Linked DNA regions of Homo sapiens: all the other regions are linked to region 3. Evidence: fine-mapped expression QTL. A gene starts in region 3. Each other region holds a variant in brackets. All regions are shown on one strand. Distances are from middle to middle.

What was found. PIP is the estimated chance that this variant, and not a neighbour inherited with it, causes the effect.
Region 1: its variant is fine-mapped to the expression of FAT1 in sun-exposed skin (GTEx, PIP 0.96).
Region 2: its variant is fine-mapped to the expression of FAT1 in fibroblasts (GTEx, PIP 0.97).

Annotation. Positions count from the first base shown.
Region 1 is chr4:186,914,001-186,924,890 of GRCh38, forward strand. The region is part of intron 1 of LOC102723906 (a long non-coding RNA gene); the gene reads left to right. Among named protein-coding and RNA genes, the nearest start is that of FAT1, 200 kb to the left of the region's middle. RefSeq lists an enhancer at 6,190-7,389. The variant A/G (reference allele first, on the strand shown) is at 5,410.
Region 2 is chr4:187,171,020-187,181,909 of GRCh38, forward strand. No RefSeq gene overlaps it. Among named protein-coding and RNA genes, the nearest start is that of LINC02374, 26 kb to the right of the region's middle. The variant G/A (reference allele first, on the strand shown) is at 5,295.
Region 3 is chr4:186,718,923-186,729,812 of GRCh38, forward strand. FAT1 (FAT atypical cadherin 1) reads right to left here and starts at 4,934. Exons shown (of 27, transcript NM_005245.4): 1 at 4,742-4,934. RefSeq lists enhancers at 4,375-4,876, 5,377-6,376, 7,559-8,060.

The DNA of each region.
Region 1 (10,890 bases), 200 kb after region 3:
GTGCAGTGGCTCACACCTGTCATCCAGCACTTTGAGGAGGCTGAGGTGGGATGATTGTTTGAGGTCAGGAGTTCGAGACCAGCCTGGGCAATATGATGAAACCTCATCTCTACTAAAAATACAAAAATTAGCCAGTGCGGTGGCACATGCCTGTAATCCCAGCTACTCGGGAGGCTGAGGTGGGAGGATTGCTTGAGCCTGGGGGGTTAAGGCTGCCGTGAGCTGAGATAGCGCCACTGCACTCTAGCCTAGGTGATAGAGTAAGACTCCGTCTCAACAAATAAAATAAATTAAAAATCAGCCAGGTGTGATGGTGTATGTCTGTAGTCCCAGCTACTAGGGAGGCCAAGATGAGAGAATCACTTGATCCCAGGAGTTTGAGGCTACAGTAAGCTGCAATGGCATCACTGCACTCCAGCTTGCGCGAAAGAGCAAGACTCTGTCTCAAGAAAAAAAAAAAAAGTTTTCTGTTAGGTTATCTTTTCCCTAATGTACACCATAAATATGTTTGCATGAACTGGAGGAAAATATGTGGGTACAGAAAAATAGGACAAAAGAGGAAAGAGCTGTTGCACTTCATATATCATGTATGACATGCTGTGAAGTGGAGGAAAGGACTGACCTGAAGAGTTTGAACTTAATGGGCACAAAATACAATTTCTGTTTATATTTTAAGAAGGTGTCTGCTCTATAATGGGTAATATGTATACTATCTAGTTTAGTACTCACTAATAGCTATGATGAAAACCGCCTTGGTTGACTTAACCTCTTTAAGTCTCAGTTTTTTCATCCAGAAACTGGGAATAACAATGACCTCATAGCATCACTGTGAGAAATTAGTGACACGCAGGACACAAACATCCTAATGAAGGAGCTGTTAGTTTATACTTTTAAGATGACACCTATTATAAAAATAAATATTTCTAACTATGTTAAACTCTCTAAATTAACTAAATTGCTTTTCAGCAGATTTCCCTGACATTGCAGGTATTTAGGAGATTGTTTAAAAGCTAGACACCAGTTTTGAGACATCTAGAGGACAGTGTTATATTTTGCAGCCAATTATGTTCATGCCATCAGTGCAAGGCAGATCTGAGGTCTTCCTTGGTAGGTGGGGCATGTTACTAGGATTTTCTTCTGCAAATTCTGATCCTACCTGCCAGAAATCTTTCATCTGCTGGCCTTTATTATGCTAGTAGAAGCTGTTGTTTACTCAAACCCACTGTCCTGCTGAACACTGGAAGTCTTTGCTGTGGCCGTCTTTGCTGCAGGGATACCTCAGTGTGCTTCTCTTCCACGCTCACATCTCTGGTCATCATTGGTAAATGTCCCTTGAACTTCGTTGTTACATGACTTCCTGTTGTAGGTGGCTTTATCTGTCTTGTTCACAGCACACACTCAGAAAAAAGTGGTATTTTCATTGAGTGCATGCACTTACGATGATGACCCTATTGAGAATACCTGACTTTCAAATTAGAGAATGTCTAGGAACTTGACTTAGGCAGGTCTCCAGGATCCAAGAAAGAGTGTTCGATCCTCTAATTCAGTGCTTTTCAAGGAGATTTTCAGCAGTTCCCTAGATGTGTTCTTTGGGATCTGAGAGTTCTCTACCAGCATTTTTCAATGTTTTTGTTTTGATGTTACCCTAAGCAAATTAGCAGAAGCATATTTTGCATGATCTTGATGGCCGCTTTATAACTGAGCCGCATTTCCAACCTGCTTCTGGGTTTGTGTTTAAAACTGACCTGGTGCTAACATGAGAGCATGTAGCTTTTGCTGTGCTGGGAAGCATGCTGGTTGCTTTTGAAGTGGCATGAAATAACAATAGCCATGAGGGTCCACCATTATCCTGATGGGAAATTCTTTTTGTAGTTGACGAGACAAAAGTAAACTCCTCTTTGGGATTAAAATTGGCAGTTAGAAGTACCTTCATTCTTAATGAGCTAGTAAGAAAATAATTCAAGTTGACCTAATTCGTAAAGAATGCCGTCACACCAAATGAAAGCCAGGCAGGTGTCATGGAGCATGAGGTTTCCATAGCAGGCTGAATATTCCAAGTTAAAGACAAAAGTAAGCAATGGCCAGAAATTTTGACTCATGCTCAGATTATCTATGGATTATATGAATGAACGATAACTAGCATTTATTCATTTCCCTCAGTGATTTGATGGTGAAATTGTTGCTGGACTAGACATTCTTTTTAATGTCTGCAAGAATTAAAAACTAATTTCAGATGTTATTTTCAAAATAGATTCCAACAGTAATTGAAATTGGTTTACATTTGCAGATTTCAATAATTCTACAATACTTTTCTTATCTTTTTAAAAGATAACTTAAAAGTTTTTTTAGATTATTTTTCTTTAGAAGTTTCTAGCATACTAAGTTTGAGAACTGCTGCTTGTGCCAAAGATAGGAATAAACCAACTAAAGGGGACCCTCTGTCCCTTACTTAATTTTGTGGTTTAAAATTGTGGAGCCTTCAGAAATATCTCTTTCTCTGTATTTCCTATTTTTTGGCATAGAATAATTCTTTTCTTAAAATAAAGACTTCTACAATAGGGAAAGAATGAGAGGATATCCCATATACTCTGGAGGAAGGATTTAGGGGATTAAACACAGACTTTTGAGAATAAATCGGCTATCAGTCCTCAGAGTAAGACCTATTTCCTAGCAAGTGTGAGCTGGGAAGAAGCCTGTCAGAGACCTTGTCACCTCCTGAAATAGCCCATGATCAGAGACACCCATCTGTGACTTTATATCATCATACAGTAAGTTGCTGATAGCAAAGCTTGAATTAGAGCTGCCTGTAATTTAGTCATAGCTATCAAATTTACTTCTGGTAATAATTTTGTAAATTTTATTGTTATCTTGTATTTTACAGTTATCTCTGAAGTAATTTATGTCTAATAGCATAATTTTAACGTAATTAATTACATGGGAATTTAAAGATTCATAGTAAAACAATTTACAGTAGTTTTAACAATCTGTTCCAATTTTTAGCCCTTATATTTTATCGTGAATAAAATATGAACATGTCTATGAACATGTCCATACTTTTTAATAAGAAAACGACCTTTAACTTTGTATCATGGTGGAATTTGTAAAAGCTATTGATAGTTTTGTTCAGACAGAAATTTAAGAATTATAGTAAATAGTTATGATTTGGTTGGATTAAAAATTCTGTAAGATCTGATCTTAGAATCTTAATCTTGCCAATGATGAAGATTCTAAGTGATGGTGAGGAGTTGTCTGGGAATAGCTGTATGTCATAACAAGCTAAGTTTGTTTATAAAGCATGGTAGAGCTCAAAGGGAAAGCTTTTATGAAATCTGGCTCTAGCACTTTTTGTCAAAATAAATCAATGAACACAGAAGAAATGAAAGGATCCCTCTGTGTGGTATACTTCCTGCATCATTTGCTTTGCTTTTCCTATTTTTCTCTTTTCTTCTTTCAACTTTTCTATGCATTCTGCTGCCCCAAAGTGCCACCTTTGTGTGCTTTTATGAATAATTTGTCCTCTTTCCAAAGCAGGTAGAAGACTCTCATGTATTCAAAATATTTTAATTGAGTATCAAAGTATTTATTGAGTATACTCAATATATTGAGTAACACATAATAGACACTCAATATCTATTGAGTTATGAGCATCCATGTGTTAGAAAGTACAGACATCAACTAAAGAACCCATAGTTCATAGTTCCTGTCTTCAAGGAGCTCAGCGTATCATGAGAGAAAGAGGCACATAAGAGACCCATTGCATGTGGCAGAGAGGTGGCAACTCTGAGCTCTATCTATGGGAGCACCAAGGACAATACTGCTCACTGGGCCTTGGGAAACCAGGCAAGGCTTCACACTGGATACTGCATTGGACCTCACCTTCTTGGATATACAAGAATTTGGCAAACACACAAAACAGGCGGGGGATTTCATCCAAAGAGAGGTTTACAGGATGTACAAAAGCATGGACTTTTGAAAGTTTGTGATGTGTCCTGGGAAGTCAATGTGGCACAGTAATTTTGTCCTTTCTTCATTCCACAAGCAAGAGAGATGAGACCAAGAAGGGAGATAAGAATACGCATCTTATCTTATTTTTCTTTTTTTTTTTTTTTTTTTTGAGACAGAGTCTCGCTGTGTCGCCCAGGCCGGAGTGCAGTGGCACGATCTCGGTTCACTGCAACCTCCGCCTCCTGGGTTCACGCCATTCTCCTGCCTCAGCCTCCTAAGTAGCTGGGACTACAGGTTATCTTATTTTTCTAAAAATCACATTTAGGGAGGTAATGTAAACAGAAAGCGAAAGTAAAGAGAAGGGTGGCCAATGACTGGACACAGCAGAAACAAAGAAACGAAAAGGACTTTTATTATTGAATGGGAGTTGTAACTGAGATTTATTGAATCCTTGCTATGTAGCAAATACTGCCCTAAACATTTTATTTATTATTTTTTAAATCCTCACTCTTTTAATAAGTACCACTCAATTAATAGTTATTATTAATTTATTTAATTTACGGAAGGCCAATGAGGATCCAAGAAATGAGGTCTCTTGCCTCCCTCCTCACATATTTGAGATGATGCTGTAAGTGGCAGAATCAAAATTTATGTAACTCTGTAAATGGAGTAGGGAGGCAAAGCATGCTGGCCACCACAAATGCAAAACAACACCAAGGAAACCAAGAACAACAACATAAACTTTCTCTAGCAGAGCTCAGATGTATTGGTTCAAAGGAGGCCTGGTTGAAGTCGTTGTAAAGTGTTATGATGAGGTCACAGTAGACCAAGTTCTTCCACCCTTAAGGTTTTGGTTAGAGAGGCATAAAAGCATTCGAGTTTTATAGTGATATTTGCCCAATGGAAAACTCTTCCCTAGTGGGGGTGATATTAGTTATGGTCTGTGATAAGGGCCCTTGGAGGAAATAAAAGGAAATGTATGCACAAGGTCACGCACTGTCATCTTTTGGCATTACTAGTCTCTTCTCTTTTTAGAAATTTTATTCTAAAAAAGAATTATTCTTTCAGTCACATTAGATCTCTTTGTTATTCTCCAAGTCACCTTTTCTCTTGTGCTTGTCCTTGGTAAGCAGTATATGTTAATAAGAACACACTCCTTCAGCTGCACCTCTAAGATGTGTAGACTTACGGGATGCGAGGAGGGGCTGGAAGTACGGGAATGAGGATGGCACTTCTGGATGATGGGAGATGGCCAGGGAACCAAGCAGAGGGGAGCAAGTGTCTCATTCTCTACTGGAGCAGGGAACAAACAGGCAGCTAGAGGACCCGAAACGTGGGAGGTTGTCCCTAGTGTTAAGAGGGGTGACTTAATTATGTTTTTTCTTAGTTCAAAGGATGTTTCTTTTAAGTTTAGGCTGAAAGTATAGAGTCTCCTGTATTGGTAGGAAGCCCAATATTGTATCA[A/G]TTTGAGATCTAGGTTTGCTGGCGTCACATACCGTACACGCCCAGGGCGTGAACCAGGCCTTTGCGGCCAAGTTCTAGGGGGCTTTGGAGACCCGGAACCTCCCGAATGTCAGCGAGAGGCAGGCGCCAGCCGCTCTGCCCAGGCCTGCCCCGCGCTGCACATGATTCAGTGGGTTGGGGTGAGGTAGGGTGTGGAAGCAACACAGGAATGGGTCACGAATAGCAAATAGTCTCTTTCCAAAAGGAGATCATGTACAGACATTGTACTGGGTCTTTGGGAATGCCGCAGGGGATCCTGCGGGAACAGCGAGAAAGAGGGAGAGAGGGGCTCGCAGTTACAAAAGAAGGTTCGGGTGGCGTTAGGAGGCGGCAGGGACGTAGCTATGCAGGCCGTGCAAAGTAATGATGCAGATGTGTGTGCCGCGATGTCTTAAGCGTAATTAAAGGTGGACTTCCGCGTTTTCTCAGATTCTTGGTGGTCCAAACAGAAAGGTTAAACAAAACAATTTACATGACTTTTACTATTTATAAAAGGAAATACACCAGGATGTCAAATGTTAAAATCACTTTTCATCACAGTTCAAACTGAAACAAAGCAGGAAGAGGCAAAAACTGCTCAGAGAGGGAGATCAACTAGCGTAGGTGCTTCAAGATACCCCTGTTTTTCTGGCATTTTAGAAATCTTCTAAAGGGATTTTTCTCAGAGTTTGAAAACAATACTGTGTTTCCAAGAATGCTAGGAAATTTACTTTAAAAAACACTCAGAAATGTTTTAAAAGATTCCTAACAATCACATTCTGTATATATCGTCAAATCTGATTTTACTAGACTCTGACATTTTGGTTACATTAAGGAATCATCCACAATAAAAATATACCATAGATAATGGATTCATAACCACATGGTTTCCATTTGTTAGTGTTAGTGTACGGAACAAGTGCAGAACAGATAAGGAAAATATACATCTGTGAGGGGGGAATTCTTTTCATGATGCCTGTCACATTCTGAAATGGAATGCAGTTAATTTCTCTCCTTCCTCAGCTCGGTAAGTTTATTTTCTTAGAATCTATTCTCTGAGTTAGAACTAGCTCTGATTAAGTGCTATATTGGAAGCAGCTCAGTGTAGAGCCATGGCTAAAATAGTTGGAAATTATATCCATAGAAAATTCAAATCTGAGAATTAAAAGCAACAACAACTGTAAAGTACTATGGATCACTGAGAAAGTGTGTATTCATTTTTGTCTAATGATGAAATGATCCAGCTGCAGGAAGAGTCCACAGAGGACATGCCCGGGCAAAGGCCTTTCATTTTACAATTCACATGGAAAGAAATGTGATGAGACCCTGAAAGACAGCTCTGGTTTCATCTGGACCACAATTTAGTTAATGCTATATTACATTGCACTTTGTAGTGAAATGCAAAAATAAAAGGCACATTTTGTTGGGCTTTAAAAACAATTTTTACACGGACATTCATCGGAAGGTTTCAAAACTTTGATGATTTAAATGCTTTTCTTTTGAGCTATAATAGAAATCTGATAGTACAATTAACCCAGATTTGTGCTGGCTTGCTTCATCCCATCAAACAATCATAGGGATTATTTACATTTCGAGTGGGAACATAAATATCTTAAGAAATAGACAAAACAATATGCCCCTTTTTATTGTGAAGTCTAACTCACCTTCATAAAAGTCAACGTATTGAAATATCAATCAATCCAGCAATTGCTTTTTGTTATGTGCCGCAGTATGGATCCTCAGGGACTCCAGACCGTGTGAGCAACTAACAGGAAACAACACCAGATGTGCTGTATCAGCCATTGATTTTCATCCCTGATGAATTCAGGTAAAATTGCATCACTGAAATCACTCAAACTACTCTGAAGCCATTTTTAAAAGGCAGCTCTGTTCAGGTTTGTTGGTTTTAAGTATCAACTTATGTGCACATGCACAGAGGTCCAAAAGGTTAAGCATCTTACGGCTTCTAGGAACTTCATAACATCATCCAGCTTCTCAAGGAATGGTTTTCCTACACAAGAAGAAATCATAAAATGTAGTCATCTGTAAATATGAGAATTAATCTGTTAAGATTCATAAGTTTATTTTCTTTTGTTATAAAATCAAGGAAAAATGACATGCATCACGAATACTGTCAGCAAGAGATACATTTTAGGGTAGGGAATAAATGACTTTGAAAAAGTTATACTACTTTCCTTGGTTTGTAGTGATCGAGTGCAGGAAATGCTTCCCCAAAATATGGCACCTTGGGATCCTGAGTGTTTTAAGCTGAAGGATAATGAGAAACCCCAGATTCTAGGAAGGTCACTCTCTTACCTTCTCCTGCCTTTCTCCTCTGAGGCCATGAAGAGAGTTCTCTGACCTACGTCCCCTGGAAGAAGGCCGATAAGACCCTCACTCCAGATGGGTCCTGCCCTATCCTCAGAGGCCAAGAGGAATCTGAATAAATAGCCCTTGCTAAACCCCCCAGTTAATGACTGTTTGCTCATACCCACTATTTGTTCCGTCATCCTCCTACAGGCCGTCTATTCTCCATCAAACCTAAGCATAAAAATACAGTTTTCCCTGGGTCTCTGGGTCTTTACTTCTGAAGGTGTCCCTGTAACATACAACTTTGGTTAGATACGTTTTTTACGTGTTTCTGTTGTTGATCTGTGTTTTGTTACAGGGGTCTCAGTCATGAACCTTACAATGGGTAAGGAAAAGATACTACTTTTTCTTCCCTACAGTAAATTTTGAACCTTGGATTTAAACAAAAATTTATAAAATAATATGTTTGATTTGCTTTTGAGATTATATATATATATATATATATATATATATATATTTATAGGCAAATAAGACTGACTATTAGTATGAAATATTTATCTTGTCAGATTTTTATACACTTGCAAACACATTTGTAATTTTTTCTGTTAGTACTTTTAACGGAACAGAAAAACAATAGAATACTCAGGGACTTCCCACTTTTGTTGTGTATTTGTTTATGCTTTAACCTTATAATAATTTCAAATTACATTACTAGTTTCTCTTTATTTTTACAAAATCATCTTCTGGACAATTCTTTAATTTGAAGACCTTAAATTTTATGCTAGACAGCTTCCCCCAAGAAGTTCAGTTTTAATATATATTTCACAGTAGTCTGGACTAGGAAAAGAAGTTGCAGGCTATCATGCAATTTCCAGCTCCTTTTGCTACCTTTCCTTCCTTTTGTTACATTCTACTTTCTTTACACAGCCTCTGTAAGCACAGCAGGTCCTCATGGTCTAACTACCAGCTTCTACAAAGCATGTGACACCAATTTTCCAGCACCGAGGAAGCTATAACTTAGTGAACACTCATTCACCCACTGAGGAGCTTGCAGATGAAATGATATTGCACATGCTATGTCTTAGAGGGAGGCACAGAGCTGGACAGGAAGGACGATGCAGACAATCGCCTCTTCATATTGATTTGAGTCTTCACTAACATCAATCCCCATTCACAGATCCTAACTCAGAGCAGCGGGAAAAAAAATTGGAACTACCCAATGTCTACTCTAAAGTGCTCTCAGGAAAAATTCCTTCCTGATTTCACATTTTGGCAGACCATTAAATATAGGAACGCGATTCACCAGAGTCAAGCATATACTTCCTACTGCTGTGAGACTGGACTTCAGAATAAAGAAATAACTTTTTTTTTTTTTTTTCTGAGATGGAGTCTCACTCTGTCCCCCAGACTAGAGTGCAGTGGCATGATCTCGGCTCACTGCAACCTCTGCCTTTCAGGTTCAAGCAATTCTCCTGTCTCAGCCTCCCAAGTAGCTGGGACTATAGACACCTGCACCACGCCTGACTACTTTTTGTATTTTTAGTAGAGACGGGGTTTCACCATGTTGGCCAGGCAGGTCTCGAACTCCTGACCTCAGGTGATCTGCCTGCCTCGGCCTCCCAAAGTGCTGGGATTACAGGCGTGAGCCACTGCGCCTGGCTGAGAAAGAACTTTTAAGAATCAGTTACTTCATATTTTACCCTATATTGTACTTCTAGACTTGATAATGTCATGTAATAAACTCCAACAATTCTTCATTTAACTTTGTCTTCCAGGTACACCCAAAGGAATAATTCCTTTGGAGGTGAGATTTTCACCTTATGACTGTGGAATTTTAAAGTTCTCTGTAAAAACATCCTATAGGTTGTGCAGTTTTGTATATTTTTTAGGATTAATTATTTCCAATCAAAGTATATGTAGAAAGTGTACAAAAATGTAGCCAACTTACTAATATTCTATCTTGAAGAACACTCTTATGAAGGTTATGTATTTGGTTCGTACTAGGATTAGAGCTTATGTTTGTATGTTGCCAGAGAGAGGGTGCTATGAGTTTTTACACTATGGAGTTGGAAGTATAGTAATTTCATTGTATTTACCAAAGCAAAAGAAGATGATGACAATGATAAAGAGGAAGATGAAGAAGGGTGGAAATAAATCAAATCTGCTAATACCTTTACTTCAGTGTGAGGATGTTTTCAACAAAATTCTACTTTCCAGATAATTATCTGAATTATCCACTTTAAATTGTAAGTAAATTTAATAAGTTGAGTTCAAATTAATGTTTTTTAAATCAGCCACTAGGATAAACCTTTTTACTTTAATATATGATTTATGCCCAGTTTATTCCATGTAAAAATTTAAGTTTCTAGGCCAAAAAATGAAACTTATAACTGCTTCCCATATAATCACTCTCAAAAGTGATTTCTGCTATTTATCAATTGAACGTGTTTCTTTCCAGTTTGTATTTAAATCTTGTGCTTATGACATGCAATGACAAATCCAATTAGCTGATTTTTCTATAGGTGAAGAAAACCCTGGTTACTTCCAACTATGTGGATGATATGTTAGTGCAATTTGTCTCAACAAAAATGGCAAAAAAGAAAACAGCCTTCTGAGTAGAGTAGAATACTTTTATTTGGTAGTTGCTGACCTGCCTTTATAGTTTACATCACCTTTTACTTAGGTTTGTGACTTGACAGATAGTGAACCTGAGAGAGAGAGAGGGAGCAGGCAACAAGGCAGCAGATTCCACCTTTTATCTCAGGCCACAAATGTGTCATTCCGCTTTTTAAAAATGCCTGTTTCATTTTGGTGAAACTTCTGATAAAAGCCAAAGAAGTACAATGCCAGTGTTGGAAACAATTCCAATTTTTATTCAAATTATTGATTGCAAGAGCGTAATTTTTATTGACAGAAAGGAATATAGGTAGTTAGAATAAATTTTAAATTTTGGTATGAAGTTTTCGATGGGATTTAGAATGCAGTTTTTGTCTCTGCAAAAAGACTTTGGGCTGAATTACACATACTATTTTTAGATCCTCGTTTGAACAGAAAAGATTGTTACTTGGCTGACTCATTATTGAAAAAAGTTTGTGCATGTTTGTGTGTGTGCATGTTTGTGTGTGTGTGCATGTTTGTGTGCATGTTTGTGTG
Region 2 (10,890 bases), 450 kb after region 3:
GTTCCTATTCTTTCCTCCTTACAGTTTCTTACAGAACATTTTAAAAATTCAAGTTTATATATTAGTTATATTTATAACATCATATAATATATACTTAACTCTATTTTTGACCTATGGAATTTAGAAATATGCCTTGTCCTCTTGCTCAGTAAAGAAAGAAATTTTGGGCTCTGCTTTGTCTTCCAGCTTCTGCTGTTTTGACTTTAAATTTTGACGATTAATGGCAGTTATGCTCTGTTCTGTAAAATTAATCTCACACTCTTGATCTCCAAGTTGAATTAAATTTTCATCTTATTCAGTGATTGACAAACGCATTTTATCTCAAGATGCATATCTTTTTTACAGCTATTACTTTGATTATTGCTTCCCATCATTTTTGTTCTCTTTCTCTTTAATTCCTATTGGATGTGTTTCCTTGCAATGATATTCTAAACTCTAAAATTTTTCTTGTTCTCTTCTTTCCTTTGGGGCATTTCCTTTACTTTTATTTCACATACTTTTATTTATTCTTTAATTTCCATAATCTTTAAAAAAGTGTTTACTGCTTCTTTTTATAGAAGCCTAGTACGGTTTTCTTGTGTGTCTGTCAGAGTTGATCTCCTCTTGTTGAGTCTCTTTGAGGTTACTGCTGGCATTATTTTAATGGTCTCCTCTTTTCCCTCAATTAGCTGTGTTTCCTGCAGTGGGGTTGTTCTGTTTCTCTCCCGTGGTTCTTCTCGTTTGTGTTACTGCTGTACTGCTGTTCCTTAAGTGTCTGCTGACCTGCAGCTGTCCCTTCAAATGTGTACGCCTGGTTCGGGTAACACAGCTCCTTGCACTGCAGCTTCCTCCAGCATTTTCTGAGTGGTAGCTCGCTCTGTTCTAACTTGTTCACTAATGTAAAAATAATAATAGAAAGTAGGGATCCAGTGCTTACAATGTAGCAGACGCTATTCAAAGCAGTTTAGATGAATCATTGGATTTAATCCTCATGAAAATCCTAGCCAATAGGCCTTACTATCATTCCCATTGTACAGATGAGGAAACTGACGCACAGAGAGGTTAGGTAAGTTGTCTAAAGTCACACAGCTTGTGAGTGGCAGATCCAGGTCCTAACCCACGCAGTCTCGCTTGAGCAACCGTACTCCTTCCTCTTGTGTGCTGAGCTATATTGATCTGATTCGTGGGCACTTCCAGAATTTAAAAAATCTTCAGCCTGCTGATGTCATCCTGCAAGTTCTTGCAATTTTTATTTTGTCTTAATTGACTCCATGTGGTACGTTAAAACTGTTGTTTAAATTTTTTTTTTTTAGTAGGAAGGGCCATAAATATGTGTGCCCAGTTTACTGTCCTGGTGAAAGTCTCAGCTGGGCTTACTGTGTTCTTATCATTGTGTTGATCACCCTGAGGGAAGTGGGAGGGGTGGAGGAGGAGAGACAGTGCCAGATTCCCAGGGGGAACTTTCAGTGGCGGGATAGGCTGATGGACAAACGTCATATTGCTCCACTGTTCTTTATTTTCTCTATCTTCTTCTGCGTTCTGTCTGCCCTCCCTTCTGTCTTAGCGGTTCCCATACAGCCTTCAAAACCAATCTCCTCCAAGAAGCCTTTGCTAATTCTCCAGCCTGAGTTTTGGGCTCTGTGCTTTTCCTGTGCCTAGTGCACGCCTCTATTACACACCCTCTAAAAATGCACTCTCTCATGGCCTCCCCGAGAGTCTCAGCACATGCAGGGCAGGGAAGTGCTACCGCCCATGCCCAGCAAGCAAAGGCCTGGCCTTTAGCCATTGTCCATTTTTTTTTTTTCCAGATGAGTGAGTGAAAGCAACTAATATAAAAGGGGTCGATTTCTTATTTCCAAATACTTTGCAGGAATGGGGTTTATTCAGATAAATAAGATATCTAGTCGTATTGATACAAATCCGGCTGGGCTGTGGCTGAGAAAGTGATCACACATGAAATTCTCCGGTTGTCCTCTGAGTTCTATGCAGTATGGCTGGACCCCTAGGTTTCTGAGTCCAGCCATCTGTGTTATATTGTTGAGTTACAGAAGACTGCATTGCCAAACCAATCTTTTCTTTTTTCTTTTTTCTTTTTTTTTGAGATGGAGTCTCGCTCTGTTGCCCAGGCTGGAGTGCAATGGCACTATCTTGGCTCACTGCAACCTTCGCCTCCCAGGTTCAAGCAATTCTCCTGCCTCAGCCTCCCGAGTAGCTGGGACTACAGGCACCTGTCACCATGCCTGGCTAATTTTTGTATATTTAGTAGAGACGAGGTTTCACCATATTGGCCAGGCTGGTCTCAAACTCCTGACCTTGTGATCCACCCATCTCGGCCTCCCAAAGTGCTGGGATTACAGGCATGTGCCACCACGCCCTGACCAAACCAATCTTTTCTTAAGTTGCTATTTTGCATGATTTTTTTATCTTGGGAGAAATTTTAAAACATAGTCATGAATGACTGAAAACATGATCTGAATGCTATCAATAATAAAACCTGAAAAGGGAGACAAATTGGTTAGTGTTTTAGAGAAACTGAATTGGTTCTGGTTTCTGAGCTTTGCGAAATAGGCCTATACCAGCCTTCAAATTGGCTACCGAGACTTTCCTTGAACCTCCAGCTCTACGACACTGGACATATGAAATAGGCATGTGACATCTGTGGCACTAGCTCGACACCCTGTTTTATGACTATGTCTTTAGATCTATTTCTATCTCTAGACCGATGGCACCAACTCAGTGCCTTTTGTCATTGCAACAACCCCCTCAGTGCTCCTCCATCCTTCAGCCTCACTCTCTCCTCCAGGGTACTCTCCACGTTGCCTGCAAATTCAGCTTTCCAAGCACAGAATCCATCGTGTGATTCCCTTTTCACGCATTACATTCTTAGAATAAAGTCCAGACGTCGCTGCGATGCACCTGAGCCCTCCCAGTCTTGCCCGGTAAAGCTTTCCACTCTCCTCTCTGGTAGTTTCCTGTGGCTGCTGTAACAAACGACTACACACTCAGTGGCTTAAAACAACACAGATCGCAATCTTGCAGTTTGGTAGCTCGGACATGTGATGTGGATCAGGATCTTGTGGTTCTGTAGCTCAAACACATGATGTGGGTCTCACTGGGCTGAAATCAAGGTGTTCTCAGGGCTGCATGTCATTCTGGAGTCTTGAGAAAAAAATCCATTTCCTGGTCTTCTCCTGCTCCTCCGGGGCTGCCTGCATTCCCCGGCTTGGGGCCCCTTCTTCCATTGTCAAAGCCAGCAATGCAGGTCAGTCCTTCTCACATCACATCTCTCTGGCTTCTTCTGCCTCCTTCTTCTACTTACAAGGACCGTCCTGATTATGCTAGGCTGCCCAGATAATCTCCCTATATTTGGGTTAGCTTATAGCAACTCTACTTCCCCTTATGAAACATAACATTTTCATAGGTTCCAGGTCTGGCCCATGGACACAAATGGGGGACCTTACTCTGCCTAACACAATGATACCTCTTGCTACCATGTATTCCTTGCTCTAGTCAAACTAGAAAACCTGCTGCTGTTGCTCAGAGCATCATTCATATTTACACTTCCCTTGTGCTCACATTGCTCTCTATGTCTGAATTATACCTTCCTCCCATTCTCTATATATTCTCAAATGTCATTTTCTCCAAAGCCTTTTCTAAGTGGCCCAGGCAGCAATGCTCCTACCTCTACCATCCCATGCTACTTGTTTATATAGTTATCCCCATTATCCTTGGGGAATAGGTCCCAAGACCCCTCGTGCATTCCTAAAACTGCAGATAGTATCAAACCTATACATACTATATCTTCTTGTATACATACATACCTAGGATAAGGTTTAACAATAAAATAATAAATAGAACAATTATAACAATATAATGTAATAAAAGTTATGCACATGTGATCTCACTCTCGGTTGCCTGCCAATAACTGAAAGGCCAGCAAGTGAAACTGCCGAAGAGGGGAGCTGCTATACCACCCACTCCAGGCTGACGGCACTGTGTGCTAGGCTGCCATTCCCATCCCACGTCAATTCCCGGAACTTGCCTTCACTTAATCATTTTTGCATCTTCTCTAATGGCCACCAAAAATTGTGCACATACAAGGAGCTCGAAAATACGTGTGGCCAGGCACATCCCTGCAGTCCCAGCTACTGAAAAGGTTGAGGCAGGGCGGTGGCTTGAGCCCAGGAGCTCGAGTTCAGCCTGGGCAACACAGTGAGACACTCGTCTCTAAAATTTTTTTAAACGTGCTATATGGAATGGATTTTTAAATGTATGATGTCTCTGGGAGGGAATTATGATCTTCATTTAAATAGTTAAGCTCCTTCTGGTGAATTCTATTTATGGTTCAGAAGTTCTATGTATTGGACAGTTCCATAAATTGCTGCCACTAGGGGATGGGTGGAAAGGAAGCAAAGCTGAAGGCAAGGTTTTCGGTCATGAAGGACCTGCCTATTGTGTGTCTCCAGTATTTCCTTGCAGAGGCTGAAAGACGAGCCTCCACGTAACCCTGAAGCACTCAGAGTCTCTTCAGCATTACCCCTGGGTTTGCATTCTATGTGAAAACCTATGAAGTTAATTTTCTTTTTTTTTTTTTAATTTTTTCTTTTCATTGCACAAGAATAAGAAGTTACTTTTCTCATTTGGGAGAACATTCCATTTTTTTGTCTTAACACCAGACTGGTATGTTTTGGGTTTCCAAGAGAGATTTTTGAAATTATTCTACCATTATGATTGATATATATTTTTAAAATGAAGATATAATAAACAGGCACTTATGATAACAGTTGTTAGTATCTTTTAGTAATTTTTTAAAAACATAAGTTCCCAAAGAACAGGCCATTTTTCTTCTTCTCAAAAATATGAAACATTAAACAAGGATTATTTCTACTCGTTGGAGTATTTAAATACAGCTATTCAGGTAAACATTCATAATCCCTCGTCACACAGATGAGAATGATTCTCAGAAGGCTTGAAGGCCTTTCCCTTAGTCTCAGAACAGGTGGGCTGATATCCAATCTCAGGTCTTTCTAGCTTACAAGCACCTGCTATTTTAGGTATGATGATCCTGTGTCCTAACATCATACATAGAAAAGACTCTGCATTTGCTTTCAAAATTAATTATTCTGAATATTACTGAAAATTCTTATGTGATGAAGTACAAAATGTATAATATTTGGAATATGGAGTTATGTAGATCTGAGTAAGTTGCTCAACCTTTTTGAATTTCAGTCTGTTACGAAAAATTAGAAATTAGAACCCTACCTCTCCATTGGGTAAAGATTAAAAAACATAAATCAGTTAATTTATTTCATTAT[G/A]TTTTATTTCCTACTGAATAGTTTGAAGACATCAGAGACTCTGGTGCCATAAAATCCCCTGCTCAGAAGCAGCATCCCCCACATATTACGAATGAGAACACCAGATGTCCTTCAGTATACAAACATCTGTGGGCTGTCACATCCTCACGGGCAAATCACTGTATCACGTGAACACATAACGGACTGACGGGATCCCTGAAGCGAATTGTTTATAACGAAGAAAGAGAAGAGAGTGATTGGGAGCCTGGAGCCCTGGTGCTTGGAGGAAGCGGATTTTCCTGGGACTGGCACCTGAGTGTCTTGTATCGGTCACGGAGGAGTCAGGACAGAGGGGTCATGGAAGAGGCTGGCGGGGCCGGGAAGGTGCTCTGCCCCCGTCTCGGGGTCCAGGGCCGTCCACTCCGCCCGTGGCTGCCGCCCGTGGCTGGCTCTCTGCGGAGCAGCCAGCGCCCGGTGGAACAGGGCTTTCTGGAAGGTGGCTGCTCTCTGACCATGTCCTCGGTGCCAGCCGGGTCAGGGGCTGCTGTCCACACTTCCCACTTAAGCCAGTATTTAAGACAGAGGGAGAAGGGAGGAGAAATGAGGGACAGAGGGGAGAGGTTTACATGGGGCAGTTGCTCCCGAGGAAAAAGAAAAGGGGTCCCCAGGCTGTCTCCCATGGCGTCCTTCCTGGTGCCCACCCTCTATGCCCTACCTGCAACCCCACGTGCGCATGAGAGGACGGACGTCTCTTCCAGCCTGAAGGGAAAGTGCAGACTTTCCGCATCTGCCTTGCAGCCGTATGTTGTAGAAAATGCCAGCAGGTAATTTGCTAAAAGTTGCCTGAGGAGTTCTCCATGGCCCAGTGGTTTCTATCTGCGAGCTGTGCTCCTCTTGCAGACGGACTGTCTTTCAGTAATTTGCAGCTATGTCATTTTTTTAACTTGTAATATATTGTATCATAGAAAAAAAGTCAGGCTCTGACTATCACTTTAAAAGCCTATTTCATCCACGACGTGGCAAAAATTCCCCTTTTTTTCATTTATTTTCTTTTTCAGTCATTTCAAAAAATAAATTATATAACATTTAAAATATTTTAATGTTTCCCATTTTGTTTGTCATGCAATCAGTTGCTAACAAAGTTATGAATAACATGATGCTCTTCGGTATATGAATGTATTCTTCAGTAAACACTGTTGAGCCCTACTCTGTGCCAGGCATCGTTCCCTGCTATTTCGGAGCTCACTTGAAAGGCACTATTGAGAGTCCTTGCCTCGCCCCCAACTTCCCCCACCACACACAGATTAGAGTGAACAGGCTTTACATTTTTTTTTTATAATAAACAATCTATGAACAAACATATGAACCTTGGTATCTCAATAGCAAATTATATTGCTGCTTCTATGTAAAAATATAGCTTTTCCCATGAAAACAAACAGAGGAATGTGCAAGAAATCTGACAGGAACTTCTTCTGGCTATTTTACCCTTGTTACTGTAGAAACTCCTTATGCTACGCTATTTTTATTGTGGTTATTTTGGCTGAAGTGTCCTCAGGAAACAACTCAGATTCAATGTGATCAGAACATTTGCTTTCTCCTGTTGCTAGAGCCATAGTGGTTTCACCTGGCATTTTTCTTTTTTAAGAGATGGGGTCGCCTAGGCTGGAGTGGAGTCACACCATCTTGGCTCACTGCAGCCTCAACCTCCCAGCCTCAAGCAATCCTCCCGCCTCAGCCTCCCGAGTAGCTGGGACTTACAGGCACACATCACCATACCCGGCTAACTTTTAAAAAATTGTTTGTAGAGATGGGGATCTCACTATGTTGCCCAGGCTGGTCTTGAACTTCTGGACTCTAGCCTCCCCACCCTCCCAAAGTGCTGGGATTACAGGCATGAGCCACGGCCCCTGGCCAACTTCCCATTTTACAGAGAAGGAAGGTAGGGCCCGTGAAATGAAGTGAATTGCTCAGCATGGTGCAGCGGTCATGGACAGATGAGGCTGCAGTCCAGCCCTGCTGAACTTTCCCGTGCACTGCAGTGTCTGTGACCTTCCACTTGCCACTCTGCAGTGCTCGTGGGGCTTCCAGGCCAATAGCTCTTTTGCTGGGAAAACAGCCGGTTGCATATGCTGAAACTATTGCAAGGACAATTTGGTAAAATCTTGAAGACCTTAACCAAAATAGTACTAGTAAATGAGGCTCAAACTCTCCCCATCCATCAAATTGGAAGCTTTTTCATTAAGGCTACTACTGAACTTTCTTTATTCAGGAAACCTAATCAGCAATAAAAACCCGACTGATCAGTGCAATATGAATTTTACTGCTGTGTGGAGACACGGTTTTATTTTGCCGTCAGGAAAAGTGAGATCTGACTGGGGAATGAGTGACTCTATAATCCTTCCTGCATCATTCCTGCTGGTCATGAAGGCGCCAATCCAAAGACTGCGTCCTCTTAGATGGGATCTGATTTTTAAACATTTCCTGGATGTCTTATTTTCCTTAGATCCTAGATCTGACATAACCCTAATGCATCTTGCATATTTTTTGGCTCCCTAATAGTTTCTGAGAAATTCCATTCCATTTTTATTTTTTTTGGCTGAAGCTGTGGAAAGACAAAAAGAGGGGGAGGGGAGACAGACGGACATTTAGAAAGTGTATTTTAAATTGCAAATTCAGATTGCTAGGCTGCGTTTGTACATGGAGAAGGAAGGGAGGAATGAATCAATAATTCAATGTTAAAACTGGAATCCTGCTTCAATTATGTGACTATTTTAACCAGAGTTATTTCAATCTGACCATCGATAATGATTCCATCTCCTCCTAGTCCTGAGCCTAGAAGTTAGCTGGGCCTTCACCTGTTCAAAGGGCAGGGTCCTCAGCGTGTTCCCTTCCTCTGGGGCCCTAGATCCTCAGATGGCTTCCTTTGCACTTGATCCAAGTCCACTCACTCTCACACCAGTGGGTCAGAAAATTAGGCTCATTTCTTTTGGAAGCAGTTGTTTCCCACGGCGTAGACATATGCTATGAATTTCACAGTTCGTTTTCTATCAAGATATTTCTAAACAGCTCTTCTTTTATTCATATGCTTGTCTACTGGGGAAATCACATGGTCACACCATATTGGTGGAAATTGTTGCTGAGGGGAATAAAACTTGATTTCAAATTTTGAAAGATAAATTGGACTATCTAATTAGCCTTGGTCAATGCAAAATCTTTGACTAGGAAAGTAACATTTTCTTCTGATCTGGAGCAGAGAAACAGGTTTTTAAATCAGTGGGAACAAGAGAGGGGAAAGACTTCCAAGTGTGTCCAGAGAAGAAGCAGATTTGTTTTACACAATCAGTCTGCAGGGAGAACCTCTGAGAACAGACATGATCATCTCCAGAGACTTTTAAGTTACTCACAGCCAAGTGGAACATAAGGGCTTCTTATTCAGGAAAGGCACTTAACCATCTTCTAATATAATAAACAGACAGGGACATTTTAGCGTTTTACCAAAGAGAAGTAAGTAAACGTAACCGTACCTAACTCTGTAATCTGAGCTGATCTGATGTGTACCATGTGACTGTAACATTGGAAGCTGCAAGGGGACCCTTGCAAAATGCGGGTAATGAGAGTCACCTCTGAATGAATGAGCAAGTCTGGGGAAGCAAACCCAAGCACTGAAACGTTTAGTGAATGGAAAGGGCCTATGCATGCCCTTCACAAAGTTAGAATTGTGGACTAAAATTAGAGTTGAATAGAGTAAACCTAAGCTTTGGAAGATTTTTGATATTGTGACTTTTTTTGTGTGTGCTACAAAAGCAGCAGTAAGAGCAATAAAAAAACCATTTCCCTTCTCTGTAGAATCACACCATATTAAGAACATATAAAAACTGTGCTATCAAATTAAAGTGTAAAACTAAGCAACTGGGATTTAGAAATATCATCCAGGAGTTTGAATTTTTAACTAGAAATTAGCTCTAAAGAAGTAAACTGTAAATGAGACAACTGGTATTGAAAAGTCTTTTCAGGGAGTCAGAAGAATTTAACCCTAGTTCCATCTCTATTAAATAGTTTGTTTTGTGATTTTTGTCACTCCACTTAATCTTTTTAGGTCCAGGTTTCCTTATCTACAAAATGAGGGCATTAGACCCCGTGCCTTCCAGCTTCAGTATTTCTCTGATTTTGGAAATTTTAGATCAGGCAGATATTGGTTCAAATTTAGAGAATCTGACATAAAAACTTTTGTAGGAGAATAGGGTAGGAAGATTGGCCTAAATTATTCAGAAATCTGCCTTACTATTATACATCATTTTAAACCCATGAAGAGTAAGAAATTGTTATGAATTATTTAACAAAACAAATTTGTATTTAAAATAATTTTGCTGAGTACTGGTGTAAACAGGCTATCTGCTAAATAGGGGATAATGACAAATACTCTGCATTTTTACAGATATTGAAAGGTGGAAATGTTCTCTCCAACACACTAAAGAGTAATCAAAGGAACTGATCCTAAAACTATGTGTTGTACAAGCAAAGGTAAGGGGTCAGCGCTGTCGTTTCTGCAGTGTCTCAGTCTCATCACAGAAGTGAGGATTTATGGTGAAAAGGAGTTTAAAGTTTCCATTGTAAAGAATGTTCCTTCAAAGATAATTGAAACGAAATTTTACAAGTGAAAAGGAGGAAATAAAAGCAGAAATGTGATTCTTGAAAGTATAGTTGAAATGTCCCAGTTATTAACCTCTCTGATACTCACTGTTAGTGATTCATGTCATCTCTCAACCGCCACTTTAATAATTGCTTTATTAGTGCACACTGGAAAGATTCATATTAAGTGATTTTTCCACAAGGGCTTCTCTTTCTCCTCTTTAGTGAACTGGACTGTAAATATGTGAATATGGTAGCTGTTTTGCTAGCCTTTTGTTTTTTTCTGAAACTCAGCGAATAAAGTTGAACTTTGGACATTTCCTTATGTATTTTTCTTCAGCATATGAAAAACTTCCTGGCACAGTTTTCTGTCCGGGGACAATACATTTTCTCCACTCCTGATGGTTTTTTCCAGGTGAAGGGAGATCCACGGCTGTCGTAATCTTTGACTTTCTCCACTCCTGGTGGAATAACTTAGCTGATTGATTATAAGTTTGGAGAAATCTAGACGTTTCCTCTTCATTGTCTCTTAATAGTTAAGTTTGGACATAGAGGGCATATATTTATCTCTGTTCCTTCAAGTTTTACAGGGGCTGCCTGTGCTTGAATGAGTAAGTCTGTTTAAAACTGGGATTCAATTTTAGGAGGCCCACTTTCCTCCAGATTTAAGCCAATATCCTTCAACCTAAATTTTGTCCGTAATCAAGGCAATAATCTGGCCTCATCTACCTTACTCTTTTGTCTTTTTTTTTTTTTTCACAGAACTGTGTTCTGTGGTTAAAAACACAGTTGCAGAAGATGGTGATTTTTAAAAAGTTGGACTCCCTGGTGTTATTGTAGTCCTTTATGAATAATAGGAAAATAGGAGCGATGAAAAAGTTTTACTTGATATCAAATTGTAACATCATTATTGCTCTGCAGCAAACACAGAATTACATTCCAGGATTTAAGTATTAAATGATATGTTTTTAAGGTCTAAGAAAGGACA
Region 3 (10,890 bases):
TCCTCCTTGATTTCATGACACCTTTGACACCACTCACTCCCCTCCCCAACACTCCTGATCCTTCATTCGGTCACAGAGTCCCCCAAAACAAAGAGGCAATCCACAGGTATGAAAAATGAATGACAACATTCTCCTGATTCTCTTCCATACTCTTTTATACTCTACACTGACTCACCTACAACTCTGGCATTACAAACTTGTCTTCCAACTCTTCCTCCACATGCATTTATTACCACCCTTAAAGATCTCATCTACTCTGCCTCAAATCATGAAGGATCAGTGCACCAAATCTGCAATTTCAGCTCTAACCTCTCTCAAACACCTCGTAACATTCCTCCTAAAATACCATCAAACCTAAGTTATACGATTGGCCTTCACTATATAAGAGTTCTGCATCCATGGATCCAACCAACCTCAGGTTGAGAACGTCTTTAAAATAAACAATAAAACAGTAAAAATATAAATAGTACCCCATTTTATATCAGGGACTTGAGCATTCTCAGATTTGGGTATAAAATCCCAAACCTCCCTTAGAGACCAAGGGACAACTATATAGACTTTTCACCCTTTCGCCATTGCAAAATAACAGCTCTTCCAGTTATTTTCCAATCTCACCACTTCCCAAATCAACCAAGTTTGCAAACTAACAAATCAAACAAAAAGGAAGGGGTTGGGAGAACATCAAATGTGGAACCTAGCTCCAGCTTTGTCACTAATCAACTGTGTGAATTCAAGGAACTTGCTTAATCCTTTCGACTCTATGTATTCGAGAAATTGAAGGATGGACTAAAATCTTTACAGCCTCCTGGCTCTCAAACCTTCATTTCTCAAAAGTTATCCAAACTTGACATTTCTTTCTCAATTTCTCAAAATGGTTCCCTTTGCATTTCTGCTGCTACCACCTAGTTAGAATGGGTATTTTGTTCATGCAGAGTATTCCTACAGTCTTTTGGTATTCCTGCTTTCTGCCCCCAATCCCAGTCAACCTATTCAAACTTCTTTGTGATATTATTCTTTAGCTTGAAAATATTCAGTATTTCCCCTTAGCCTGCTAAGTATATGATTCTTAACCTTGCATTAAAGACCTTTGATAATCTAACCTCTAACTAATTTCCTAATTTCCCAACACTACTTCTTATTTCAAAACAAAAAGGCATACTTCCCAGACTTGCAACAAGTTCAGTAACCAAGCTGTCTTGAGCCAATAACACCACCTAGTGGTGAAGGCTCTAAAGTAATGTAACATCTTGACCTCTTCCCTTCCGAAAGATAATGCAAACATTACTATTTTCTTTGTTTCCTGCCCTCCACTCCTCACATACAGCTTATTTGTTTTCACCTTTCTCTTCAACGTTTCTTTCTTTTTCTCTCTCCTTAACCTCTGCCTCATAAAAACAATCCTCCCTTTTTTAATAAGATTATTTAAGTCATAGTCAAGATTCTCTATGTTCTACCTAGACAAAAAAAAGAAGCCAATCCTTTTCCTAAGATAACATGGTACGGTGAGGTCTTCAGAATTTCTCTCCACTCATCACACCACAAGCCACACTATGCTTTCTATAACTTGCTTTGCACACATCATTTCCTCTGCTTGAATTGTTCCCCTCTGATTCACACTTCCCTCAGAACTCACATTATCCTAAATCCACCTGCCCCAGATCCCCCAGCTCACTGAGGTGCTGCTATGGACCACCTTGACCTGAATGGATCTCTTATCACACTGGTCTATAAGAGACTGTGTACTTGTCCTCTCCCTTATCAGACTACGAGCTGCTTGAGGGCAGGAAACACGATTTGTTCAGCACTAGATGTTGTGTCTGGCCCAATGTTTGACACAGAGGAGGTCCACTATTGTTGGATTGGTAAATGGACAGATGAATAAAGCGTTAAGAGTGAGAAATGTGAGGCAGGACTGTGTTGGGGAGGGGATATAGAGAGGGATAACATAGGAAAATAAAACATCCATCCTTCTCAAATTAACAGAAAATCCAGGCACAACCACGAGGCTGGTAACAACACTGCAGGTGGCTGCTCTGTAGAGGACTCATTTCCAATAGCTCAGAAAGAGGTCACCACCCACCTTACGCTGCCTCAAAATTGGCTATAGATAATGCCAGATCAGTGTCTGTGTTGCAGATTATCACAAAGCTCTAACCTTAATATTCTATGAAGGATACAGATTAAATCATGACTAATATTTCCTAAGCAGTGTATAGAAGCCTTTATTATTTTTACTTTATAGACTTATCTTCACATACATAATGAACCCTTGGAATTAAGCAAGAATTCAGGCAATGTATTTAAATCTGGGACTTACAGTAAAAGATGACTTAAAAAACTTAAAAGAGTGAAATATGCAGATTCCTCATCAGAATATATTTTTGAAATGAAAAGTTCCCCTCAGGTATGAGAAAATGGCAACTTCCTGATCTTAACTGATGTATATCACTCATTTCAAAAACTCTTCTCCAGTGTCTAAGGATAAATAAGCACTTGCAAACTGAACAATTAAGTGAGACCAAAAGATAGAGTTTGGCTTCAACTTCTACATAATTTGGTCAAAAGAACAATTATCTAGCGCAAATCCCACTCATAAAGATTAAACAGCACATCCAGCCTTACGGCTCCCTGCTATTAAATCAGGTCCTTTAGGCTACAAATTATGCCACTGAGACAGAATCTAATGCAATAATAATGTACTAATTTGATTTGGCTGATTGATTCTACGTAAAATCAGCCAAACTTGGGTGGAAAGCAAGCGGGTAAAGTGTTAAAACATAATCTCTAAGATCCTATCCACCTCTAACATTCAAAGAAACGACTGCTTCAAAGGGACCTCAAAGCAAAGTCTAAAGGCAATGGAAAGGTAGAGGATGATCAGGGGAATGAAAACAGAATTAGTTTGTGCATAATTTTTAAAGATTTTTCTTCTCTTCTTTTTCTTTTCTTTTTTTTCCCCAGGCTGAATTGCAATGGCACGATCTCGGCTTACCACAACCTCCGCCTCCCGGGTTGAAGCGATTCTCCTGCCTCAGCCTCCCAAGTAGCTGGGATTACAGGCATGCACCACCACACTCCGCTAATTTTGTATTTTTAGTAGAGACGGGGTTTCTCCATGTTGGTCAGGTTGGTCTCGGACCCCCGACCTCCGGTGATCCGCCCGCCTCGACCTCCCATAGGGCTGGGTTTACAGGCGTGAGGCACTACGCCCGGCCATAATTTTTAAACATTTTTCTGTTGGCACCTGTCCGGACCATGGATTTAAATGATCTACTAACATGATGAGAACCCAACGGGGATACTTCAAAAGAGACAAATGAATATACAGGTGGCCCGAAATGATTTTATAAAGTCCTCTAACAACCACACTTCTTTCCAGAGTGCCAAAGAATTTGGCTCATTTAAGGTGTTCATTTTTCAAAAAATGGTTATACAAATGCAAACTTCATTCAAATCAAACCTTACCTTGAGCTTGTTAAATGCCATGTTTAGCATCACTCAAGGCTTATACCAATTGTTGTTTTAAAAAATTACATAGTGCTTTAAGTATTTTTACATCTTAAATACAAAGGAATAATTCTAACTGTGGAATCAGAGCTGTCTTCCTAAGACAAAAAGACAAAGACAAATATCACAATTAACTATTAACTGGAGAAACACCTTTTCAAACGTCCCTGTAACAACTGGATGTGTTGGACAGCATAACCAAACTCATTAAGAATAGTGTGAAAAACATCACCATTACCTAGTTCTCACACACAGATACCTTCTTAAACTATCGAAACCTGTATCTGAATATACGAAGCATTAAGAATCTGCTTTTGAAAAGGAAATGAATATCTGAAGGTCATTTTCTTTTCAATCTTTTCTCATACTAATAATCACTGTTAATATCCACTTTTAAAAAATCGCCTCTATCAGGCACCCGGGAATTGCTTAACAAAAGCCACTTAATGAAACCACAGTTCAGACAAAAAAAAAAACTTAACTGCATAGAAAATATTTATGAGTTTACTTTCCTAACTCATACAATTGCGTCCTTGTTTCCAAAGCCTTGCAATTCACATCAGCGGGAACAAAAAAATCTAACACACAGCAGAAAGCTGGCTCTCTAAAAGAAAGCATTTTTTTTTAAAGGCAATGAAGGACCAAAAACTCTTTCTTTTAAAAAGATCTTAGAAGTTCCTCCTCCAGAGAAGACAGAAAACACTGACAAACCGCACATTGTGCAGATGTTCAGCCCCGAAATGCAGCCTCGCAGCCCTTCACTCCGCAGTCCACCGGTTGCATCTGCACCTCCGGGCAGCGCTCCTGCAGGGCGCAAACACCCAGAGACCCAGGGACCCGGCAGCCCCGCGCAGGCCTCCCGCGTGCACCGCTCAGCGAGCGGGTCTTTCGCAGACGGCGGGATGCCCCAGGAGACCGCGAGGCCGGCGCAGCCCGGCGAGCTCCCGGAGGGAAGGCGGCGTGTCAGAAAGGATCGGACCCCAGCAATGGCCCCGGATCGGTCCCGCGCGGTCGCCTCCTTTTCCCGCTCCGCCGCCGGGACCCCCCTAGCCAGTGCTGAATTTCCCAACTGGGAAGGACCGAGTCACTCCACCCTCCGGGAAGTCGCGCGCTCATCCGTTTTCGGCAGCGCCGGAGCCCGAGCCGGGGACCGGGCGGACACCCACAGAGTCCGCACCGCAGCGCGCTGCACGCTCTCGCCCCCGCCCGCCGGCCCGCGCCCCAGCGAACTAACCGCAAAGTTGGCCCGAAGTGGCGACGGCGCTCTCGTGGAGCTCACCCGCCGTCTCAGCGCGCCCCCGAGCAGGGACCGGGCCTGCCGGGGCCCTCGCCGGGCTCGCGCGTCCGCATGGTACCTGCCGCACGAGCCGCTCCCGCGCCCTCTCCCCGCGCCCGGCCGCCCAGCTCGGCGCCGGCGCCTCACGCTCCCCGAGCGCAGGAGATCCCTCCGCCCCGGCCCCGCCCGCCGGCGCCGGCGCTCATTTCTCGGGCGCGGAAACTCGAGCCCACTTTCCCCGGCTGCCGGCTCTGGGACCGCGGGCTCGGCCACGCAGTCCCGCCCGGACCCAAAGAGCCCCAGTCCCTGCGAACACCAGGTCCGTGCTGGGAGACGAGAAGGCGCCCAGCGGGGTCTAGCGCGGCTCCGAGGGGCAGGGCGAGGCTTGTGATGCCGAGGTTAGTTACGGCCAGCCACAGGCGCTGTGCAAGGAATTGGGGAAAGCTCCCTGCCAAGAAAGGGAAACGTTAGCTTAGCTAAAAAAAAAAAAAAAAAAAAAAGGCTGGGGCCTAATGAGAAAGCTTCCCAGAGGCATCCCTTTAGCTTTTCCATAGCCTTCTGGGAGCCCCTGAATCTGCATTTGAATGGCGCGGCTCTGGGTCCGCGAAGGTTTGGTGGGCTGAAGTCGTCCTTCAGGTCTCCAAAGGAATGCAGCTAGGTCGGAATCTACTTCCTCCTTCAATCCCCAGAAAATGGAAACGCTTCCCCCGCGACCTTTTTCTGCCGAGTTAGACCCCAGGCCCTCCCCGCCGCGGGCGCCTGGCCTCCCCCGCTGACACCCCGGACGCCCAGGCCTGTGGGACAAAAGGCAGTCGCGGCGTCCCGCGGGCTTCCTAGCCCGGGAGTCGGCCCCAGGGGCCCCAAAGCGTGACCCCAGGCCGACAACTGCAAGTTCCTAGGCAGAGGGGAAGCCCCAGCGCCGAGAAGCCCGCTCCGAGAACTCCCCGCGCCGGGCGCCCAGCCTGAGCGTCCCGGGCGCGGAGCCCATCCCCGGTGCGGGCAGGGCTCCAGCCGCAGGCTCGGCGCAGGGCGGACTCGGCCGAAGCCCGGAGGGCCGGAGGCGCTGGGACGCAGCCCGGACAAGAGGGCGGACTTGATCTCGGAAAGTTTGTGGGACTCAGGCATTTTAACACTGGGAAGACAAAGAGATCCGATTTCCCTGGGACTGGTGAGGGGAGCTTGGCGGGGAGGGGAACGGCAGGGCAGTCAAGTGTGAAAGAGAATTTCCTGGGTTCAAAGTTAACGCAGTCACCTTATAAGCCATCTTAGAGGTGACCGGAAAAAATAATAATAATAAAGGTGTCTAGCAGGTTGTGGCTGGGAAGGAAAAATAATGCCTGCAAGATGAGTGTGCCGATTCGTAGCCCTATATTCCCTGCCCACCAGTTGGAATACACATAGATTCACACATCCAGCAAATGCAAACTCCATCATCCAAAGACGTGTTTGTCCCGGCCATAATTGCTCCAAGTGCTTACAGGTCAATTTCATACATGGAACACCTCGAAAGTGGGTGACCTGATCTCCAAGCCCAACCGGCTTGTGCCGCTTGCCGAATTGTAAATCTCAGCAAAACCCAAACACACCGGAACTCCAGCCGTTTCCTGGGAGCGAGGAAGCGGGAGTAATGCTAAAAGGGGAAAAGAAGAACAGTAAAAAAAGTACAAAGATACCATTCCCTGACGTAAAATCACGGGATTTTTTTTAAATGGCACAAGAGAATTCCTGGAGAAGATTACCATTAATTAATAAGTAATAACGCTTCCTAGGGCTTACTAGATGTTTTACATCTGTCTGGGAATCCCGATTTTCCAGGCTCCCTGAGAAATCTATCTGCCTGGAAGAAGTTGCACTTCGTCGCCACAGGAGCCGCCGAGAGCCAGGGATGGAGATTTCAGACTTAGGACTCTGCCACGATTCTACTGATCCTTAAGCGCCAACAGAACGAAATGGACATGCCTATTAGCTACCACAAATCGAATTATTTTATATGAGAGAGAGAAATGTGGTTCAAGTTCCACATTTGTCCTTTAAATAATCGACCCTCCCTAACCCTGTCCCCAAAGGCTCGTGGAAATTAGGGAGGGGGTTGGGGAGACGGTTCCAGAAACAAAACGCTTTCCTCCAGCACGGCCTCTACATCCAGTCCACCCAAGCTGATTTTTGTAACTCATATAAAGAATGGGCCCGGGTGGGTGGTCAGTGAAGACTGGGGTGAGCAAGCGCCCACGTCGCCGAGCGCCGGGGAGGTCCAGGTTCGCCTCCGCACAGAACCCTGCAAGGAGCGCGCCTCGCCAGGTGCCCGGACTAGAGGGCGCTGCGCCCCTGCAAATCTCGCGGCCCCGATGCGCCCTCCCTAGGCACCATTGCTATAATAAGTTACATTCAAAATAATGCACAAACAGCATCGCCTCTCAAGTTCTTTTTAACAGTGCTCTATATGTATTTTATGAACTCCCAAAGCTATGCATACGAATCTTTCATCGCCGATCCGCACAAAGCCAGAGGGATGCGCAGCTCCTGGAGCCGAGAACCCGTAGGGCGCACACGCTTCCCCGCACTCGCTTAGAGCCACACACCCCACGTAATTTCATTAACGTTTAAACTTAAATGCCAAAAGGCATGCACGATTTGAACAAAGAACTCACCAGTCTAGCCGAGTCCTCGGCCCTGGGCTCTAAAGTCCTCGGCAGCTCCGTGATCCCCTCGCGGTGTAGATATGTGTTAAGAGCCGGGTTTGAAGTACCAACTTTGCCTCCCCGGGATCTTCAGCATGTCCCTAACCAGAGTGCCAACGTCCGTGCCGCCGGGACCCAGGCGGCCGCATCTCCGGAGGCTTCCGACCAGGGCAAACTTAAGCACCAAACGCAGGCGAAAAGAGAGTGCGCGGGGCCGGAACGAGGGCCCGGGAGCAGCCAAGTTTGTCAGGACGTGCCCAGGCAGCCAGCCGCCGAGTTGAGGAGTTGCGGCCGCCGGCTGCGGCGACTCGCTGCCTCTTTCCCCACTCCCTCCCCCTTGGAGGCGGTGGGGGAGGGGAGGTGACGTCAGCGCCCCGCCTCGCCCCCCGCCCCGGGCGCGGACGGGATTCTCCGGCTGGGCGCGCCACCCCGACAGTGGCAGCAGCGGCCGTGGAGGCTGCGGGGGTCCCGGCCTCTGCGGTCTCTCTGGCCGGCCGCAGCTGTGGCGCGGGTGAAACGCCCGCCCTCCTCCTTCGGCTGCGTCTCCCGGGCGCCGGCGAGCGCGGGCGTTCCTCGCACTCAGCGCCTGGAGCCGCCTGGAGCCCCGCTGCGCGCACTTCCCCGGCTCGCGGAGCCCCTCCGGCGGCGTTTCCCACGCCGCGGACTGCAGGTGATGCTCTTCCTCTTCTGCAGCCGAAATTCGTCGCGATGTGTCGCCTGCCAGATTTTTGCTGGGCGGAAGCATGAACAGTCTCTGCAGACTGGCCTGGACGACTTGTACTTTGTGGCCCTCCAACTTCTGGATGTGAATTTTTTTTCACGACTTATTATTATGCTCTTCGTGGTCTTTGTGTTGAAAATCACGGAGCTGTATTTTTATTTTCAAATTCTTTCCCAATGCTCCTCTTGTCTTGACCGTACTCTGAAGCTTATAAGGTTCTGAGAGGAGGGGGCGAAGGGATAGGGGAGGAGCCAGTTCCTAATGTGTCTTACAAGTCATCCCTAGTGATAGGGGCTAATACGCAAATCACTGTCTCCTCCTCGAAATAATATCCATTTAGATAAATGCAAACACTGTTGAGGTTTAATTTATAAAGAATGCGTCGTCTTTATGTAAGTGTCCAGCCTCCAGGAAAATATCTGCTGTGGAATATATTTTTAATGCCACTAAAGTACCAAAATACCTCCCCGAACAGCGTGAAATTCCGAGGGAGCCATTTCTGTGAGTTGACATTGTCCCCAGAAGATTGTCATTAACATTCAAGATCCTTGCAAAAGGGGGCTGGGGGCGGTTCTATCATATTTGCATCCGTTGGTATAAATATGTTGATCAGTTTAGCTGGTCGTTCTTTTACAAAGGTCAAGAGCAAAATTCTGAGCACAGAGGAAACTGGGCAGGGAGCTAAACAGTAAGGAGAGAACAAGATTAGGTGATTGGAATGTTGTGTGTGTTTAGCCTTGAAGTCATAACTTGTCTAAATGTCAGTGTCCTCATCTGTGATATGGGACTAATATCTGCTTCATGTGGTAAAAATGTATTCATGTGTTTATCCATTCAAAAAAAAAACATACTGCACTCTACTTGCCAGGGAGATAACAGTTATTCATGCAGGCAAAGCATTTTTACTGAGCATCATATGAAGTGTCTAGCACGCACATAGTAGGTACTTAAACAATATTAGTTTTCCTGCCCTCCCCCGCTCCCTTCCCTCACTTCTTGGCAGTGTCTCAGTTTTTAATCCATAAAATCAGCATCATCACCACTGATTGGAGATTCTGCCAGGCAGGTCTCCAGACTCAAGTCAGGTCTCCTGGGCTCAAGAGATCCTCCTGCCCAAGCCTCTCCCTCAAGGTACATTTTGATTTGGAAGGGAGGAGAGGATCCAGGGAGCTAGGACACGGAGGGATATAGGAAGGGATTTTAGAGCTCCTGCAGACCCCGAGGGCAGCTAGAGGGTGCCAGATTCCTAAGGAGGGAGGAGGCTGGCTTGAGAGGCCAGTCTGTCAGTGCCCAGCGGACTTCTCCTGCTTCCCTGTTTCAACTACACAGGCTCTCTCCTTTTGTGTCAATAGTTGAAATTAGAAATTGACCACATATTGCAAGTCCTCAAAATGATTCACAATAAATTCACCCCGAGAGGCTTCTCGCTGAAGTCCATTTGGTTTGCTATACTCACTTTAAAGTTGTAATAAATAAACCAAATTACTTAAAAAAGATAAAAATCACAAATGACAGGAACTTATGAATAACAATTGATGATATTAGTCAAAATAGCTGGTTTTCAAAGTGAGATGGGCAGAAAACTTTTAACAGAACCTCTAGAGCTGTGCTAATGTAGTGGGCAGCCACTTGCCCCCTGTGGCTACTTCCAGTTAAACTAAATTAAAAGGCACTTCCTGAGTCTCACCAGCTGCATTCCGAGTTTCAGTGACCATGTGTGGCTAGTGACAATTGTATTGATCGCAGCAGATCAAAGAACATTTTCGTCATGACAGAGTTCCACTGGACACCTTGGTCTAGACCTTTAAAAACACTGCTATTTTATGGAAGGCTACATCAAGCATTAAAATTTCAGTGTGTCCAATACTGAGTCACCTCTGAAGTATAAGGGAGGACCCAGAATCATGGAAGGATTCATTCATTCAGCAAATATTTATCAAGTACCAACAATATGCTGGGTGAAAATATGTAAGACCCAAGATTTAATGAGGTAGGTGTGTTTAGTGATTAAGAAATATTAACATGGCCTTTTAGTTGTTTTCCGTCTTTGCTGACTCATAAAACCAGGGGAAATCATAGATTTAAAGCAGGAAACAATTCTGAGACATTTTTTGGAATAGCCCTAGGACCAAATACTTCTAAGTAGGCTTGACTGACTCCTGGCATCCCACCCTCTCTGCTGCTTTCACTGCTTTCTCATCTGCCTGTGTGCCCATTGCGGCCTCCCCTTCCTGGAGGTGAGAGGAAATATCAGCCCTCTCCACTTCCCCTGCACCTTGGAATTATTTTACCCTTTGCATTCAAATACAGCTCTTCTCCGGAATCAGCTTGTACTCTCAGAGGGAGCCATTAGAACATTAGACACCTGGCTGGGCACGGTGGCTCATGCCTGTAATCCCAACACTTTGGTAGTCTGAGGCGGGTGGATCACCTGAGGGAAAGGGTTTGATACCAGCCTGGCTAATATGGTGAAACCCCGTCTCTACTAAAAATACAAAAATTAGCTGGGCATGGTGGCGGGTGCCTGTAATCCCAGCTACTCGGGAGGCTGAGGCAGGAGAATCACTTGAACCCGGGAGGCAGAGGTTGCAGTGAGCTGAGATGGCGCCATTGCACTCCAGCCTGGTGACAGAGCGAGACTCCATCTCAAAAAAAAAGAACATTAGACACCTAGTCAATCTGATGGGAATCAGTGCTGGTTAACTATG